Regions from separate parts of the Homo sapiens genome. Here region 1 is linked to region 2. The links come from fine-mapping of genetic effects on gene expression. Tissue or cell type: whole blood. Region 2 holds a variant in brackets; the other region holds the start of a gene. All regions are shown on one strand. Distances are from middle to middle.

The links. PIP is the estimated chance that this variant, and not a neighbour inherited with it, causes the effect.
Region 1: it holds the start of TOM1, and the variant in region 2 is fine-mapped to the expression of TOM1 in whole blood (INTERVAL, PIP above 0.99).

What each region holds. Positions count from the first base shown.
Region 1 is chr22:35,295,285-35,303,461 of GRCh38, forward strand. It overlaps TOM1 (target of myb1 membrane trafficking protein), which reads left to right and starts at 4,610. Exons shown (of 15, transcript NM_005488.3): 1 at 4,610-4,696. The coding sequence starts at 4,645. HMGXB4 (HMG-box containing 4) reads left to right here. Exons shown (of 11, transcript NM_001003681.3): 11 at 1-523. RefSeq lists enhancers at 4,185-4,707, 4,634-4,783, 4,708-5,230, 5,184-5,343, 5,754-6,275.
Region 2 is chr22:35,330,347-35,338,523 of GRCh38, forward strand. It overlaps TOM1 (target of myb1 membrane trafficking protein), which reads left to right. Exons shown (of 15, transcript NM_005488.3): 8 at 1-134; 9 at 2,635-2,668; 10 at 3,058-3,151; 11 at 3,982-4,102. MIR3909 (microRNA 3909) reads left to right here and starts at 5,294; the gene lies at 5,294-5,412. MIR6069 (microRNA 6069) reads right to left here and starts at 6,453; the gene lies at 6,375-6,453. RefSeq lists enhancers at 14-514, 6,469-7,378. The variant A/C (reference allele first, on the strand shown) is at 3,746.

The DNA.
Region 1 (8,177 bases), 35 kb before region 2:
TCTCAGCTCAGAGCAGTTTTAAGATTTAATTGGGAATACAGAGAAACAGGATTGTTTGAGAACCAAAATCAAGAGGAACAGAAATCTTAACTTGATTTCATGTGTTAGAACATTGTACCATGCCTCTTCTGTATCTGTGGAAGTTTCCTGTTTGACACAGGGTATCTAGGAGGGGCGGGGAAGACATGGATAGTATAGGAAGACATTAATCCTAGCATTGTCATTTATATACATTAATGAAATCCTGATGAGGACCTGCTTTTTGTTTGTTTTCCTTTGAAACCCAGCCCTATTGTATTTGTATTTAAAATTTGTACACATTTGTATAATAATCTGTACCTTGTGGTATTTGGTACTATTAGAGGAAAAACTTTGGATTCAGACCTTCTTGCAGTTTTTATATCATTGTTTTATTTTGTTTTTTAAATAAATTCTAGTGGTTTGATCCAAATCCCATTACAGTTGTATAAAGAAATAAAATTTTGTACTTATATTATTAAAAATCACATTTTTAATATTTGTAGTCCAGTCTCAGCTGTCTTTTCCCTAATCATGATCATCATAGTTGCTATGAAATTATAAAACCTGTTTTTCACTCTATTCTACCATAATTTTCTTAAGAAAAAAATCAACCCACAATGGAGATTAAATTTCTAATCTTAGCCATTTTCTTAATATACTCCTTACTCTGCTTCTATTAACTTTTACATTGTAGAGGTTCTCATTTTCTCTTTTGCAAATTGCAAATTTAGTGAATCTGATAATTCCACCTCCATTTATTGGCAAATGAAACTATGTGCATTATGGTGTTGGCCTAAATCAAGAAAATGTTGATTAATCTTATATAAGGGTTGCATCTGAATCATGTGCTAAATGATATGTTTCAGTACTGTCCTGTTAGCATTACAGTAATGCTGTTGATAAGTTACTTAATCTTTATAGGCTTCCAAAGTCCCATCTATAGAATAGTGTTAAAGTCACTTCCCTGTCTGTAGACCTGCAGCCAGCCAGCCTGACATGAATGTTTAATAACATTATGAACACTGAATATATGGAGATATGACCTTTCAAGGTAAAAACTTCAGTGCAAACACAAGGTGTTAAAAGTCATAAATAGTAAAATAATATGATTAATTACAAGGCTAATGTCTTATGGAAAGGCAGCAAGGAAGAGACTACCGTATCACTGAGTGACTATTAGAGTGATTTGCATACTTTGTCTCACTCATCCTCCGCCCAAAGCCTTAAGAATATTATCTCCCTTTATAGATGCGAAAAAGTACTTTTCCTAAGTTTATACTGCTAGTAAATGGCAAAGGCAGATTAAGAACAGTGAAACAGCTGACCCCAAACCCTAGGCTCTTTTCTACCCCAAGCTACTTTCAGATTTAAATCATGTCTATAATTCATCAGAATGCTTTCCATTATCTCAAGTCCTGAGCGAATGTGATTGTGGGAATGCTGTCTCAGATCTTTGCATTGTTCGGGTATCTAGCTGGCTTTCACTCTTGTCATACTATTGTCTTTAAATTTTGAAGGCAAGGTATCTTGATTTTTGTCTGTAAGCACTTAAAGGATTTAATAGATTACATTTATGCAGACTGTCAATCTTAAGAAATTTGAACATTTTAACCCTCAGTAAGGCATGATATTAATTTTACTAAAACACTTAAAAAGTAAATTGAAACACTTTTTACTAAATCAGTTTGCTCCTTATTAGCACACTTTTTAAAGACAGTTTTAATCAGTTTTGTACTAACTTTAATGTTTGCCATTTACATCCCTATCTACTATGTTGATAAAATCCATATACTGGCCAGGTGCAGTGGCTCGTGTCTGTAATCCCAGCACTTTGGGAGACTAAGTCAGGAGGATCATTTGTGGCCAGGTGTTTGAGACCAGCCTGGAGAATATAGCAAAACCCCATCTCTACAAAAACTAAAAGATATTAGCCAGGTATGGTGGCATGCATCTGCAGTCCCACCTACTCAAGAGGCTGAAGTGGGAAGACACTTGAGCCCAGGAGATCAGGGCTACGGTGAGCTACAGTTGTACCACTGTACGCCAGCCTGGGTGACAGAGACTCTGTCTTTAAAAATAAATAAATAAATAAATCCATATACTTCCATTTCTGTTTCAATAGCTATATAGTAATCAGTTTGCATGGAGTTGTTTTTCTTTTTTTTTTTGAGACGGAGTCTCGCTCTGTCTCCCAGGCTGGAGTGCAGTGGTGCAATCTCTGCTCACTGCAAGCTCCGCCTACCAGGTTCACGCCATTCTCCTGCCTCAGCCTCCCGAGTAGCTGGGACTACAGGCGCCCACCACGGCGCCCACCACCACGCCCAGCTAATTTTTTCTATTTTTTTAGTAGAGATGGGGTTTCACCGTGTTAGCCAGGATGGTCTTGATCTCCTGACTTCGTGATCTGCCTGCCTGGGTCTCCCAAAGTGCTGTGATTACAGGTGTGAGCCACCGTGCCCAGCCTGCATGGAGTTTATGATTCCACTTCCTGTTTGGGGGCATATGAGTTGTCTCTGTTTTTGTTTTTTTTTGTTTTTTTTTTTTTTTTTTTTTACCATGAATAAAGTTTACAAGAACTTGTTAAAAGCTTAAAGGAAGGGCCAGAGATGGTGGCTCATGCCTGTAACCCAGGGCTTTGGGAGGCTGAGGTGGGAGGATCACTTGAGCTCAGAAGTTCAAGGACCAGCCTGGGCAACATAGTGAGACTTTGCCTCTAAAAATAAATAAATAAAGGTTAATGGAAGAATCCAAAAGAAGTTCATGCTAAACATAACTCCATATGACCAAGCAATAAGGTTAAGTGAAGAAAGACATGGAAAGTGCCTTGACCTGAAGGTCATCTTAAATGGCCTTCTCCCCGCTTATACTCCAAATACCATTACTGAAACGTAGATCTATTTAAGCTTTCATGTGCTAGTTACTGGGTTAGACAATAGTGGGGAGCAAAACAGAAATAGTAGCCCAGCCCCCAGGGACATCCAGACTCGTGGGGGCAAAGGCATTTGTGAACAGGTCTCATGAGTGTTGTGGAAACACTTCAAAGCAGTTTTTATATTGTACAGTAAAGACATCGGACCCCATGGCTGCTCAAACAAGTGAATCTACAGAGGTGATTAAGTTCTAATTTAGGTTTGTTTTTTTTTTTAAGACACAGCCTTACTCTGTCACCCAGGCTGGAGTGCAGTGGCACGATCTCAGCTCACTGCAATCTCTGCCCCCCTGGGTCCAAGCAATTCTCATGCCTCAGCCTCCCAAGTAGCTGGGACTACAGGCGTGTACCACCACACCTGGCTAATTTTTGTATTTTTAGTAGAGACGGCATTTTACCATGTTGGCTAGGCTTGTTTTGAATGCCTGACCTCAGGTGATCCACCTGCCTCAGCCTCCCAAAATGTTGGGATTACAGGCGTGAGCCACCACACCTTGCTTAATTTAGGTTTTCTGTCATCCAAAATTTGTGCAGTCAATTTACTAGCCTTTCAGATTTAAAAACCACAAACATCACAATAAGTACTTAAGCACCCACAGTAGCCAGACTACTAAGGCCATGGTTATTGTATTTTTGGAGTACATGCCAGAAGAAAAGGTCATAACCCATAGATAGGTATCTAGTGTGTAGGTGTCAGCAGACACACCACACACAGCCAGGAAGGCTGAAGAGATTAGAATCACAACGCTGGGAAAGGCCTTTGAGATTCTTAGCTTGGGGTCCACGGTTGTACTTCAGGGACCCCAGAAACTCCCTGAGGTTATAAGCAAAATTGTATCGCTGCCTTTTTTCTTCAGAAAGGCTCATGGCTTTTGTCAAATTCTCAAAGGAGACTGTGACCTAAATAAAATATTTTTTAAAAATGGTTACGAGTCCTTGATCTAATTCCAGTATCTAGAGAAAATGGGAGCTATGTTTGGCTCACACAGTAAATTTATGGCAGAGACGGGTATTAAAGCCCCACTCGTGACTACATCTGTGCTTTTTGCCATCCTGGGCGCTAGAGGGAATTGCGCTGCAATTCATTAAATTGCCTCTCAGTCTCAACAGATGACAAACCCCTTGCCCTTGCCTCTGATTTAAGGTAAGATAATTTGGGCTGCGAGCAGGGTGCATCTTGGAGCGGGGAGACCTTGACATCAAACAGGAAGAGTCTTACCGGGACAAGGAGACAACAGCCCAGAGAGGCTGTCACCCAGGGTAGGTGTGCAGTCACAGTGAGGTCCCAAGGACTAAGGGCTATGACCCTAAGAGTCTCGGCTTCTGTGTAACTCACCCAAGTCACTTCCCTGGTCTACGACCCAGTTTCCCAAATGTGTAAAGGGTCCTTTAGACCTCGCCCTAAAAGGTCAGGGGCGTGGCTTAAAGAGGACCGCGCTTCCCGGGCCCCGACCCCAGACCCTACATCGTGTGTGACGCCCGCCGCCGCCGAGCAAGCCGCAGTGAGGTCATCGCCCTCCGCCTCGGGGGCGGGACCCTGGCGTCTCAGGGCGGGGCTTGTGGTCGAGCTTCGCGGTGCCACCGCCCCGCCCACGCCTCCTCGCCGGCCTCCGAGTGCGTCACGTGACGGGTCGGTGGCGCTGGCGGTTGCTGTCAGCTGATTCCCGGGGTTGGTGGCAGCGGCGGTAGCAGCAATGGACTTTCTCCTGGGGAACCCGTTCAGCTCTCCAGTGGGACAGCGCATCGGTGAGTCCCTGGAGCCCCCCACAGCTCCGCCCCGGTGCTCCGCACCCAGCTTCGGTCCCCTGGGAAGCCTCCGGGTGCCTAGTCACGGAGGCAGGGAGGGCAAGGAGGCTGGCGTGTAGCTCTCCGACCTGGCTCCGCCCAGCTTTCCTCCCACTCTTGATTGACAAGAACTTGGGCCATTAGGAAGCCTTGGCTTGTGATAGATGTATATGACAGCCAGTAGGTAAGGAGAGAGGGTGGGTCCGGATGCCCACGGCGCAGCCAATGTGCGTCTGCTGGGGTCCCCAATCGAGGGAGAAAGTTTTCGTGGTTAAAGGGACTGCGTGGTTGGCAGTGGCTGGGCCACTCTGCTGGGTCCCGCCGCCTGGGCTCTGGCCAGCTCCTTCCTGGCTCACCGGGCCCTCCGGACACAGACACCTGAGAAGGGCTAGAAGTCCCTTCTCCCAGGACCGCGAAGCCCCGGGCTTGGCGTCTTGGGGCCAACTGGCCAGAGGGGCCCAGCGCCGGACAGCCCGCGGCCAGGCCTCACAGACCCGGGTCTCAGGACGTGTCCGCCTGGGCTCTTTTCTCGACCCAACCTCAAATGGACCCGCACAGACTCTCAGAACCTGAGCAGACAGTGGTCGGACAAACCCTCCTGGTCAGCCCATCTCGGTGCTCCGTAGGTGGGGCAGCCGGGAACTCGGGCCAAGCCAAGCCCAGGGCACCTGGCGCCTGTCTGCTGGTCCGTGGTTCTCTGCACCCTGGTGACAGGATACTCACAGTTCTGTGACGCAGCCTCCCTGGGCCGAGGTTTCCTCACCTGTAGTTGGCGGGCAATAATGGTCCCCACCTCCGTGGGCTTGTTGTGAAGATTAAATTCCTTAATAAATGTGAAATACTTAGAACAATGCCTGGTACATGGCCAGTGCCATATAAAAAAAAACAGTTGTAATATTTATTATCACTGGGCTGGGCACGGTGGCTCCCGCCTGTAATCCCAGCACTTTGGGAGGCCAAGGCGGGCAGATCGCTTGAGCCCAGGAGTTCGAGACCAGCCTGGGCAACATGGCGAGACCCCGTCTCTACAAAAAAAAAAAAAAAAAAAAATACAGAAATTAGCCGGGCGTGGTGGTGCGTGCCTGTGCACCCAGCCACTCGGTAGGCAGAGCTGGGAGGATTTATTGGATCTGGGAGGTCAGGGCTGCAGTGAGCCCTGATGGCGCCACTGTACTCCAGCCTGGACGACGCAGGGAGAGCCCATCTCTTGAAACACATACACATACACACACACACACGCACACATATATATAAAAATATACACATACAAACATACATATACATACACATACATATATATTATATGTATTTACACACACACGTTGTTCCTGAGATCACCAAGTGAAGGTTAGGAATCCCTGGAAATCGCTTGGCAGTAGATCTCATAGGTGCTCATTCTTGGGCACCAACACCATGAGAACCGACATGCCTTCACCCAAACAGCCACACTTCTCCGGAGGATGGTTTGGGTGTTCCGCATTCTTGCATGAAGAAACCATCGCATTACCGTGAAATTACTCTTCATCTTTTTTGATGACGACTTTTCGTCTTAAGTCCAGACTGGGAAAACTTTAAGATGAGACATATTTTCCATTCTTAGTGTCTTGCGAAACCTCACGAAAGCTTGTCGACCCGGCTCTGTGTTGTAATCGCCACCGTGGCTGTCGGTGGCTCTTCCGAGGTTTTGTAATCAATGCTCTCCAAGGGGGAGGTGGCAGTCCAGGATTTACACACCAGGAAGCTCCTGAACCAGGGAGAGGAACTGCCCTCTCAAAGGACCCCTGCCCTCCCCGGACACACACCCACCCCACAGTGAGTCATGGTTTTTTGGAGCTGAAAAGAGAAGGCAGCTCTCCTCTCATCTATATTTCTCTGACTACAGAAACCACTGCTTTTATCACATGCCAAGTTTAAGACTTACTACTTAAAAATAAACAAGTAAATAAAAGACCTGGCTTCAAAGTCAGCCACATACTCTTAAGGCTTTCTGGAAAAGCTCACCTGGGTTCTGGATTTCAGCTAATCAAAGCAAACTTCTCTTCTTACCTTGAAGCGTTGCCTTTCTTGGGCAAGAAATACTTCTGTGCAAAGAGAATGCTACTAAATCATAATACCTTAAAGCACAAATGGAATTTTGCAGGTAAAAGAGCCTTACCTTGGGGATCTTCTAACCCAGTGGTTCTCATCAGAATTCCTAGGAGGGCTTGTTAAATAATGTCGGGGCCCCAACCCCAGAGTTTCTGACTCTCCAGGTCTGCGGTGGGACTCTAGAATGTGAATTTCTTTTTTTTTCTTTTTCTTTTTCTTTTTCTTTTTTTTTTTTTTTTTTTTTTGAGACTGCGTTTCGCTCTTGTTGCCCAGGCTGGGGTGCAATGGCACCATCTTGGCTCACTGCAACTTCCGCCTCCCGGGTTCAAGCGATTCTCCTGCCTCAGCCTCCCAAGGTAGCCGGGATTACAGGCACGCTCCGCCACACCCGACTAATTTTGTATTTTTAATAGAGATGGGGTTTCTCCATGTTGGCCAGGCTGGTCTCAAACCTGAACAGGTGACCCACCCACCTCAGCCTCCCAAAGTACTGGGATTACAGGCATGACCACCGTGTCCGGCCTAGAATGTGAATTTCTGTTGAGTTCCCGGGTAATGCTAATGCTGTTCCAGCCCATCCCCTTCATTTTACACTGGCGGAGACTAAGGTCCAGAGAGGGGAAAGTGGAGGCTGTGACTCATCCAAGACCCCAGTAAATTGACAGCAAAACTGAGTCATTGAAATTTAAACCAAAGCTGAAGAGGCTCCAAAAGTAGAATTAAGAGTTTGAGTTAATCCCCTCAGTATTCCATATTCTTTTAGATAAAGAGGCGGAGGAAGTACTGCTCCCTGGCTGTGATTACTGATGACACAGTATAGCTGCTTATAATTCTGTAAACCAGGCCCCTCCTTGCTGCAGGAGTACCATCTCTTCTCAAGCCTGCCGACTCCCATGCCCTTGTTGATAGTAGAGCTGTAGAGCCATATGGAATTGACATCCCTCAGATGGTGATTCTAATGATGCTAATCAGGAATGAGTGTCAGTCACTGGAATCACAAAGTTCTCATCCACCTCCCCTCCCAACACACACACACACACACCCCTTTGTGCTTGCTGGTCCCTCTGCCTGGGTTGCTTGCTCCTGTGCCCCCACTGAGGAGCTCCAGATCACCCTTCAAAGTACAGGGCATCATCACCTCCTCCCTGAGGCTTGCCCCAAGCCCGACGTTGCTCTTTTACTCTCCCTTTATCCTAGATCCTCAGGCCCCCTTGCCCTATGACTTTGGGCTCTGAATCTCCGCTTCCTCCTTGGTAGAATGTTACTAACAGCATCTGCCTCACAGGGTGGTTGCTGGAATGAAACAAGATAGTCCTCTGAGAGTGTCTCGCACAGTGTGAGTGTATGGAAACAT
Region 2 (8,177 bases):
GAGCTCAACCGCACGTGCCGAGCCATGCAGCAGCGGGTCCTGGAGCTCATCCCTCAGATCGCCAATGAGCAGCTGACAGAGGAGCTGCTCATCGTCAATGACAATCTCAACAATGTGTTCCTGCGCCATGAACGGTAGCCCCAGCACCTCCCCTGGCCTCTGGCCTACTGCCCCAACCCTCTCCCTTCCCTTCCTCCCTGTTCTCCTGGTCTCATGCCATCTGAGCCTTCTCTCGTCCTCCTCTCAAACACAAGGCAGGCTCCTAAGGGCCTGTGCCCTCAGCTGTCTTCTTCCAGGATGTTTATGAGGGCCCCTCCTTCCAGCCGCCCTGTATCTCCTTTCCAGGGTTAGCGCTGCTGCCTGTGCCCAAGTCCAGCCCTGGGAGATGGTCACAGGTCACAGCTGAGAGCACGGCCCTGCAACCAGACTGGCCTGGTGTGTCCTCGCCCACTCCACCACTTCCTGGTTCTGGGGCCTTAGACAAGTGACTTCACTGCTGCAAGCTACACAAAACATTTCTGGCTAACTTAGGCAGAAAAAGAATTTGTTAGGATAATAATCTTTATTAAATGGGTAGCTTTCAGAATCCAGAGAAAAGTGAAACTGATGTCTCCCAACAGAACAAGAAAGATGGATCCCAGGGCAGCTCAGATGTCTCAGGAGCAGAAATTCCTGGACCATCTCCCCAGGGTGCTGCCATCAATAAATACATCAGCTCAAACACTTGTCCACAAACACCTGTCCACCTTTTTTTTTTTTTTTTTTTTGAGGCACGATCTTGCTCTGTCACCCAGGCTGGAGTATAGTGGCATGATCACAGCTCACTGCAGCCTCAACCTCCTGGGCTCAAGCAGTCCTCCCACCTCAGCCTGCCAGGTAGCCGGGACTACAGGCATGCACCACCACACCCAGCTAATTTTCTTTTCTTTTTTTTTTTTTCTTTTTGCAGAGACAGGGGTCTCACTGTGTTGCCCAGGCTAGTCTCAAACTCTTGGCCTCAAGCAGTCCTCCCTCCTTGGCCTCCGAAAGCATTGGTATTACAGGCATGAGCCACCACACCCACCTGCCCACCTTGTATCATTCTGTTCAAGAGTCACATCCCCAAGAGAGACTTGGATTGGCTGAGCTTCATTGTGCCTACCAGCTGGGGTATGGGAGAGGGCCCTTTGATGGCAGCCCCACCGGGATGATGTGAAATGGGGGAGGAGCAGTTCCTCTAAAGAGTACTTAGGTGCTATTACAAAAGAAGGAGAAGGGCTGGGCGCAGTGGCTCACACCTGTAATCCTAGCACTTTGGGAGGCTGAGCCGGGAGGATCACTTGAGGCCAGGAGTTTGCAACCAGCCAGGCCAACATGGTGAAACCCCGTCTCTACTAAAAAATACAAAAAAATTAGCCGGAGGTGGTGGTGGGTGCCTGTAATCCCAGCTTACTTGGGAGGCTGAGGCAGGAGAATTGCTTGAACCCAGGAGGCAGAGGTTGCAATGAGCCGAGATCGCACCACTGCACTCCAGCCTAGGCGACAGAGCAAGACTCCATCTCAAAAAAAAAAAGGAAAGAGAAGGAGAAGGATTGCTGGGTCTGCAGAAATTGTGTGCCCATCACACCTCCTCTGTATCTGTAAAATGAGGCTTGTGGCATAAGTGAGAGTCCATGAAACAGTGTCTGTAAAGCGCTTAGCAGTCCAGGGTGTCTGATAACTGACATGAGTTATTCCAGCCTCCTCCAGCCCCTTGTTCATTTTTTGTGTCTTTCTCCATCAAAAGACACTCACTGATTGATTCTAAATCAGTGGAAAGTGGGGGGTACCCTGCAGGTCACGTCTGCCTAGCTTCTCCTGCTCGTTGGCCCAGTGGAATGAAAGGCCTCTTCCCTGCCATTTTGGGGTATGGGCTGTGAGGTGACTGAGGGGCCCCATCTGGTAGCAGCTGGTACCCTCAGATATCCACAGTCATTAGGCTTAATATCTGACTGTGCTTTCAAGCTCGCAGTCACTTATACCCATGTCCTAATTTGGGCTTCAGCACTTCAGGGAGGCAGGTGCCTACAGATACTAGACAAGCAGACTAAAGTTCAGAAGGAACATAATTTACCCGAGGTCATGTGATAAGTGACAAGGCCACGACTTGAACAGACCCCACACTAAAGTCTTCTCGATCTATCACACCGGCCCCTAAGTAGCTCCATAAAACAAGATTAGAGATACATGTATCTTTCTTACAGCACTGAAGAGAGCACTAACACACACACACACACACACATACACACACACAAATATGTAATTGAAACAAGTTTCATAAGACAGTCCTTACCTTTACTGCGTGCCATGCATTCCTATTTTCTTTGCTGTTCTAACCTATTCCTGTTTATTTGTTTCATGCTACTCATGACTAAGGTTGCCTTATAATTGATCATCCAAATTGGGACACTTTTGCAAGGGAAAGAGGAGCACTGCTAGTTACCCAGGGACAGCAGGCATGAACTGGATCTGTCCAGGGCACACCAGACGTGTCATCACCCTGATCATAACCCACCGTGTTGATGTTGAGACCCACAGTTTGAAAAGCTCTGCCTGGCCGTGTGTGGGGGCCTGTCTCAGTCTGTCTCCATAACTCGTGTCTTTTCTGTCTTGTAGGTTTGAACGGTTCCGAACAGGCCAGACCACCAAGGTAAAAGTCTTCTTTTCTGTGACTAGATCAGGCCCTGTTCATGGGAAGAAGGAGTGCCATTCTCACCTCCCTCCCCTAGTAAACTGGACAGGGTGGTGCTGTCTTATCCAGGCCCATAGAGAAATCCCCTTCTAACTTTTTATGTCCCTGTCCCTTTAAGGTAAATAAGGCTGTGCCACCACCTGATGCCCCAGGGTCTCCCCAACCTCCCAGGGAGTCCAGTTGAGCTGGAGCCAGAGGGGAGGAAGGAAATTCCCTGATGCCCAGTCCTAGCTCCTGGGGCCCTGGTGACAGATCCCTGGGCAAAGCCTGCAAGCCACAGTGCTTGGGGCAGAAAGGAACGAAGCTGCAGACAGCGGGGATGATCAGGGCATCTCCCTTCCCACCAGGCCCCAAGTGAGGCCGAGCCGGCAGCTGACCTGATCGACATGGGCCCTGACCCAGCAGCCACCGGCAACCTCTCATCCCAGCTGGCAGGAATGAGTAAGTGTGGTTTGGAGGGCTCCAGCTGAGGGTACATTATGGTACTGTGGGCACCCCTGCAGATTTTCGGGGTGCCCTTGTTATATACCCACAGCAGAGTGTCAGTCTGGACCCCACCTTGCTGGGGTCCCAGGCTGAATCTTGCTGCAAGGTGGGGCACTCGGGGTCACTGCCCCTGGCAGCCCCACAAGTCCTGAGCCGCCTTGGATCTCAGAAATCCTACCATCCTAGGATTGGCCCTCTACACTGAATTCTCCATGGCTTCAATCATCTGCGTGAGCTTGGGCAAGTTCCTTAAACCTCCTGAGCCTCTCTTTCCTCCTCTTTAACAGGAGTAGGGAGCTCGTGTATGAGAAGCGCTTAGACCATGCCAGGCCCAGGTTGCACTCTGGCTGAGTAGTTGGCCATTGTCACTGTTATCACTGTGATAGGTTTTAATATAATTTACTGTCTGCTTCATGCCAAGCCCTAGGAAATCATTAGCACCCCATTTTGCATCACTAATGCTATACTTTTTGAAAAAATCGACTACCCATCTGATTACTGTCCTCCTGCCCAGCCACTTCCCCAGCAGAATCAATGGATAGCGTTTTG[A/C]CTGTTCTCTAACGCTCACAGCAGCCCCAAGAGGGGTGAGTAAACTAAAGCTGGGAAGAGGAAGCCGCTTGCCCAAGGCCCCACAGCCAGCAGCAGGTGGCCTGCCTCGCGCATTCCCCCACCCACACGTGCCACTTCCCCAGCACCAAGCCCTGGGTCTGGCAGCAGGTAGCTCAGCAGCAGCTCACACACAAGCTTGTGGATGGGTCTTTCACGTGGCCTTTCTGTCCCTGCAGACCTGGGCTCCAGCAGTGTGAGAGCTGGCCTGCAGTCTCTGGAGGCCTCTGGTCGACTGGAAGATGAGTTTGACATGTTTGCGCTGACACGGGGCAGCTCACTGGCTGACCAACGGAAAGAGTGAGTGGCCTGGCCCTGCCCTGGTCCCCTGCAGTTCGGGTGGCTCTCGGGGTTCTGGAACCCGGTTTTATGGTGGCACACCATGAGGAAGGGCACACGGACCCTGCTTAGTAAGCACGCCCTTAGTATCCCCTAAGTCAGTCCAGCATGGCCTGGGAGCCCTGTGGTCAGTTGACAGACTGCGCTCCCCACAGGCCATGCTGGGTGGGGGAGGGGGAGCCTAATGACCCACTGTATGCCAGAATCTTACATAGTCTGATCAGAGGGGGAAACTGAGGCACAGAGAGGGGCAGGCTCATTTGCCCCAGGTCAAGGAGCTAATATTTGGCAGCACTAGGTTAGGAGCCTAGGGCTGTCTGGTTCCAAAACACAGTGTCTCCACCCCCCGCCCCCCTCCCTGCACTGTGTACCGCATAGTAAGCCCTCCAGGAGCAGGGAAGTTTCCTGATAAATCCTCAGGGACTTTCAAGTCAAGTCTTTTTCTGTTGTTCCATAGCCACCGTTAATTTCCAGAGAAGATTAAGCAGGTTCTGTCAGCCTTGCCCCAGAGCTGGGGCTCTGCCCTTCCCTGTGCACCGTGCATTTTCAGGGGGTACTTTCAGCAGCATAGGCACGTGGCCTGAGTGTGTCCACCAGGGTCTGACCCCTTGCCGGGACCTGCGGGAGAACTGGCCCCGTACAGGCTTGTAAGAGGAACAGTCTGCTTGATGTTTTCTTCAGCCTTTTGCCCACTGTGACCCCCAGGGCTGAGCTGTGGGCAGCCAGGATTCTTATAGCTAAGGAAAGTTCTAGATTATGGGATCTTCCCACTGACCCCACTCAGCTCCTTAGAGGTCATTCTGGTGTCTTTTGGAACTTTGTCAATGGGCCTCCAGAGAGCCCAGGGATAACCTCTCCACACCCACAAATCCAGGTCCAGGCTGTAGCCTGCTAGGTCCTTAGGGCTGCCCTGGCTGTTAGCTGTATCTTTCTTTAGTCTGGGCAGAGTCTGTACTTTTAAGCCCAGGTACCCTGGGACCAGCAGCTGTTGCCATGGAGTTAGGGGTGCTGCCGAGGCTACCCTGCAAAGGCAAGCTAATGAGTGTGATGGGACTTGCAGCCAGACACGCCCATCCACAGAGGCCCCAGCAGGCAACACTGCTGGCCATACTGGAGAACCCTGGCGCCTGCCCTGGTCACCAGCCTGGCTGAGGTATGCTGTTGCGCTGTCCTTCCTCTGGGGAGCAGGCTCCGGGGGACAGGGAAAAGCACACAAGGAACTTGTCCTCTAGGGCCTGCAGTCTCATGGGAGAGTGACATGCACCAGGACCACCGCTGTGAAGGGCTAAGTGCTGTCCTGGAGGGGGCACCAGGCTCTGTGGACACAGAGGAGGGAGCATGCAACTCTGCGGAGGGTACTCAGAGCTGGACCAGGTGCTGGGTGATAGGAAGGCCATTTCAGGCACTAGGAACAGCATGTGCAAAGTCTCAGAGGCAGGGCGGGAGAGAGGTGCCCTGGCTCCCGCACAGCAGCTGGGAAAGATGCTCTTCACACAGGGAAGGGGGCAGGATGCTGAGAGGGTGGTGGGGCCCACTGGGCTACAGAGAGGCAGTTGATTTTATTCTAACATGAGCAGGAGGGAGCACAGGAAGGATCTTTTTTCTTATCAGATTTTCATCTTTGAAACTGCCTTCAGCTGAGCACAGCTGAAATGACATCATGCACCTTCTCAGGCCATTGGTTCTCCTGCAGGCCCTCCCCAGGGCTTGGTTTCCACCCTGGCAGAAAACATCCAGCAAGGTCAGGCGTGGACCTGAGCATCCATTTCGTCTTCCCTTTGTTCTCCTGCCTGGCTGGCCCCCTTAAATGCTTCTGGTGGATCTTCCAGCTCTGGTCACCTGACTGGCCTTTTCTGCCAGCTTGGTGTCCAGCCCGCTCCTCCCTGTACCTGCCTGGCTCCCCACTTCACACCAGCCTGCAACCAGCTCTGCCCTGGCTGGCAGGGAAACCAGCTCCTTATCAGCCGCTGTTTCTGCTCCAGCCTTGACCACAGCTGGCACCGTCACAGCCTTCCTGCAGCCAGTCCTATCCACTCAATGCCAAGGAGTAGCAGGGCTTCTGGGCGAGCCACAGCAGAGACGCCTCGGCTAGGCCTTCACAAAGGCAGGGGTGTCCTTCCCCCGCTTTGTCCGCATCTTCGTCAGTGCTGCTGTACACAGAGGCCTTCTCTACAAGGAGCACTTAGACAAGTGTCACCCCAGTGGCCCAGGTGCAGCCCCTGCCCACCAGCCCCACTGGGACCACCTAAGGAGTGACCCTCCACCCTCCTGCACTGGGCAGGGGGCAGCAGGCCCTAGCCCAGGGGTCACCACCCAGTGCAGGAGGTGCGGGCTTCCTCCAGGGAAGTGCTTGGCCCTCCACCACCACAGGCATGGCCTTCAGGGACAGCTGGGCTTCAGGGCCATGTGTGGGCAGGGGTGGCGAGGAGCTAAGCTTAGGAAGGGCAGATAGTTCTTTTTTTTTTTTTTTTGAGCCGGAGTCTCGCTCTGTCTCTCAGGCTGGAGTGCAGTGGCGCTTGCAGAGTGCAAGCTCCACCTCCTGGGTTCACGCCATTCTCCTGCCTCAGCCTCCCGAGTAGCTGGGGACTACAGGCGCCCACCACCACACCTGGCTAATTTTTTGTATTTTTAGTAGAGACGGGGTTTCACCATGTTAGCCAGCATGGTCTCGATCTCCTGACCTCGTGATCCGCGCGCCTTGGCCTCCCAAAGTGCTGGGATTTCAGCCACTGCACCTGGCCCAGATAGTTGTTTTGAGTGAAGGGAAATCATGGGTTTCTGCGTGTTCTGGGGCTGGGCATGGCTTCTTCAGCCTTGCCCACAATGCGCCAAGCATGTCTTAGAGACAGCAACAAGCACCTCCAGACCCTCAATTAGCAGGCCTTCTCTGGGTCAGAAGTCAGCAACCTGACGCCCCACCTCCCCCGCCACTGGCTTTAAGGTTGGCTCCAGCAGGGCCCTGCCGTAGTCACTGGCCCACTTGCCATGGATGGGAGCCGTGTAACCAGGGAATGCCCCAGCTAGTGGTCACACTCCACCAGCAAACTCTGCCCCTGGTGGGAAGGAACAGACAGCAGCACTCTTCAAAATGACTGCGTGGGAACTGGGGGTCATATTCAAGAAGCCCCTTTCAGTGCCAGCCTACTCCATTCCTCAGAAAGCAAGCTGGTATTGCAAGAGTTAAATGTGATGCAGTCCCAGTTCCTGAAGCCTACAGTTAGACCAGCCCCGCTTCACTAGCGTGTCAGGTGGCCTTGTTCCTAACAGGAATCGCAGGCCTTTCCCTTTGTGACCAGAATTCTGTGGCTTACTTCTTTGCCTCAAAGCTGCACTGAGCCAGTGCTGAAGTCCTGTCTGCCGGCAGTTCAGGGCGAGAATAACAGGGCTCTTTCCCTGCAACAGGGCTGGGTCCCCAACACCTGCCCTGGGCACCCCCACTGCGGCAGCTGGGAAAGACACCATAGCCGCCTCTCCTCCTTAGCCAGCTTCTCCTCTCACTCAGGTTATTCTCTTGCTCCCCAGGAGACTTAACCTCACACACAACATACCCTTCCTTGCCTCTCCTCATCTGCCCAGCAACTGTGGGGTCAGCCTCTGCCGCTCCCAGCCCATCAGCCTTGCGTGCCCTCCCAGTTCCTGCCTCCCCACCCTGCCTAGCTGGCTGGCACCCCCCAGAGGACATTTAGAAGAGCTGTAACCAAGCCACCTCCCATGCTGCTGAGACAAGGTGGGGGCAGAGTCATCTTTGTGCTGGTGAGCCAGTGCAAGACAAGATGGCACCTCACCCAGCAGTTTATAGATGTGTTTTCAGCAGCAGAATGGAATCCCCCATTCAAATACGACCTCATACACAACCACAGTCTATAAAATAGGAAACAAGATCTGCTCAAGAAAGGGTCTGCTGGGAATTCTCCATGAGCCTACGGGCACTGGAGCTATTTATCAGTCTCCTGAGTTTGGCCAATCCTGGTCATAGCCATTGGTGGTCTTGGTCTCAGTCTTTGGCCAGCAACACCCTCCCTAACCTCTCCAGCCT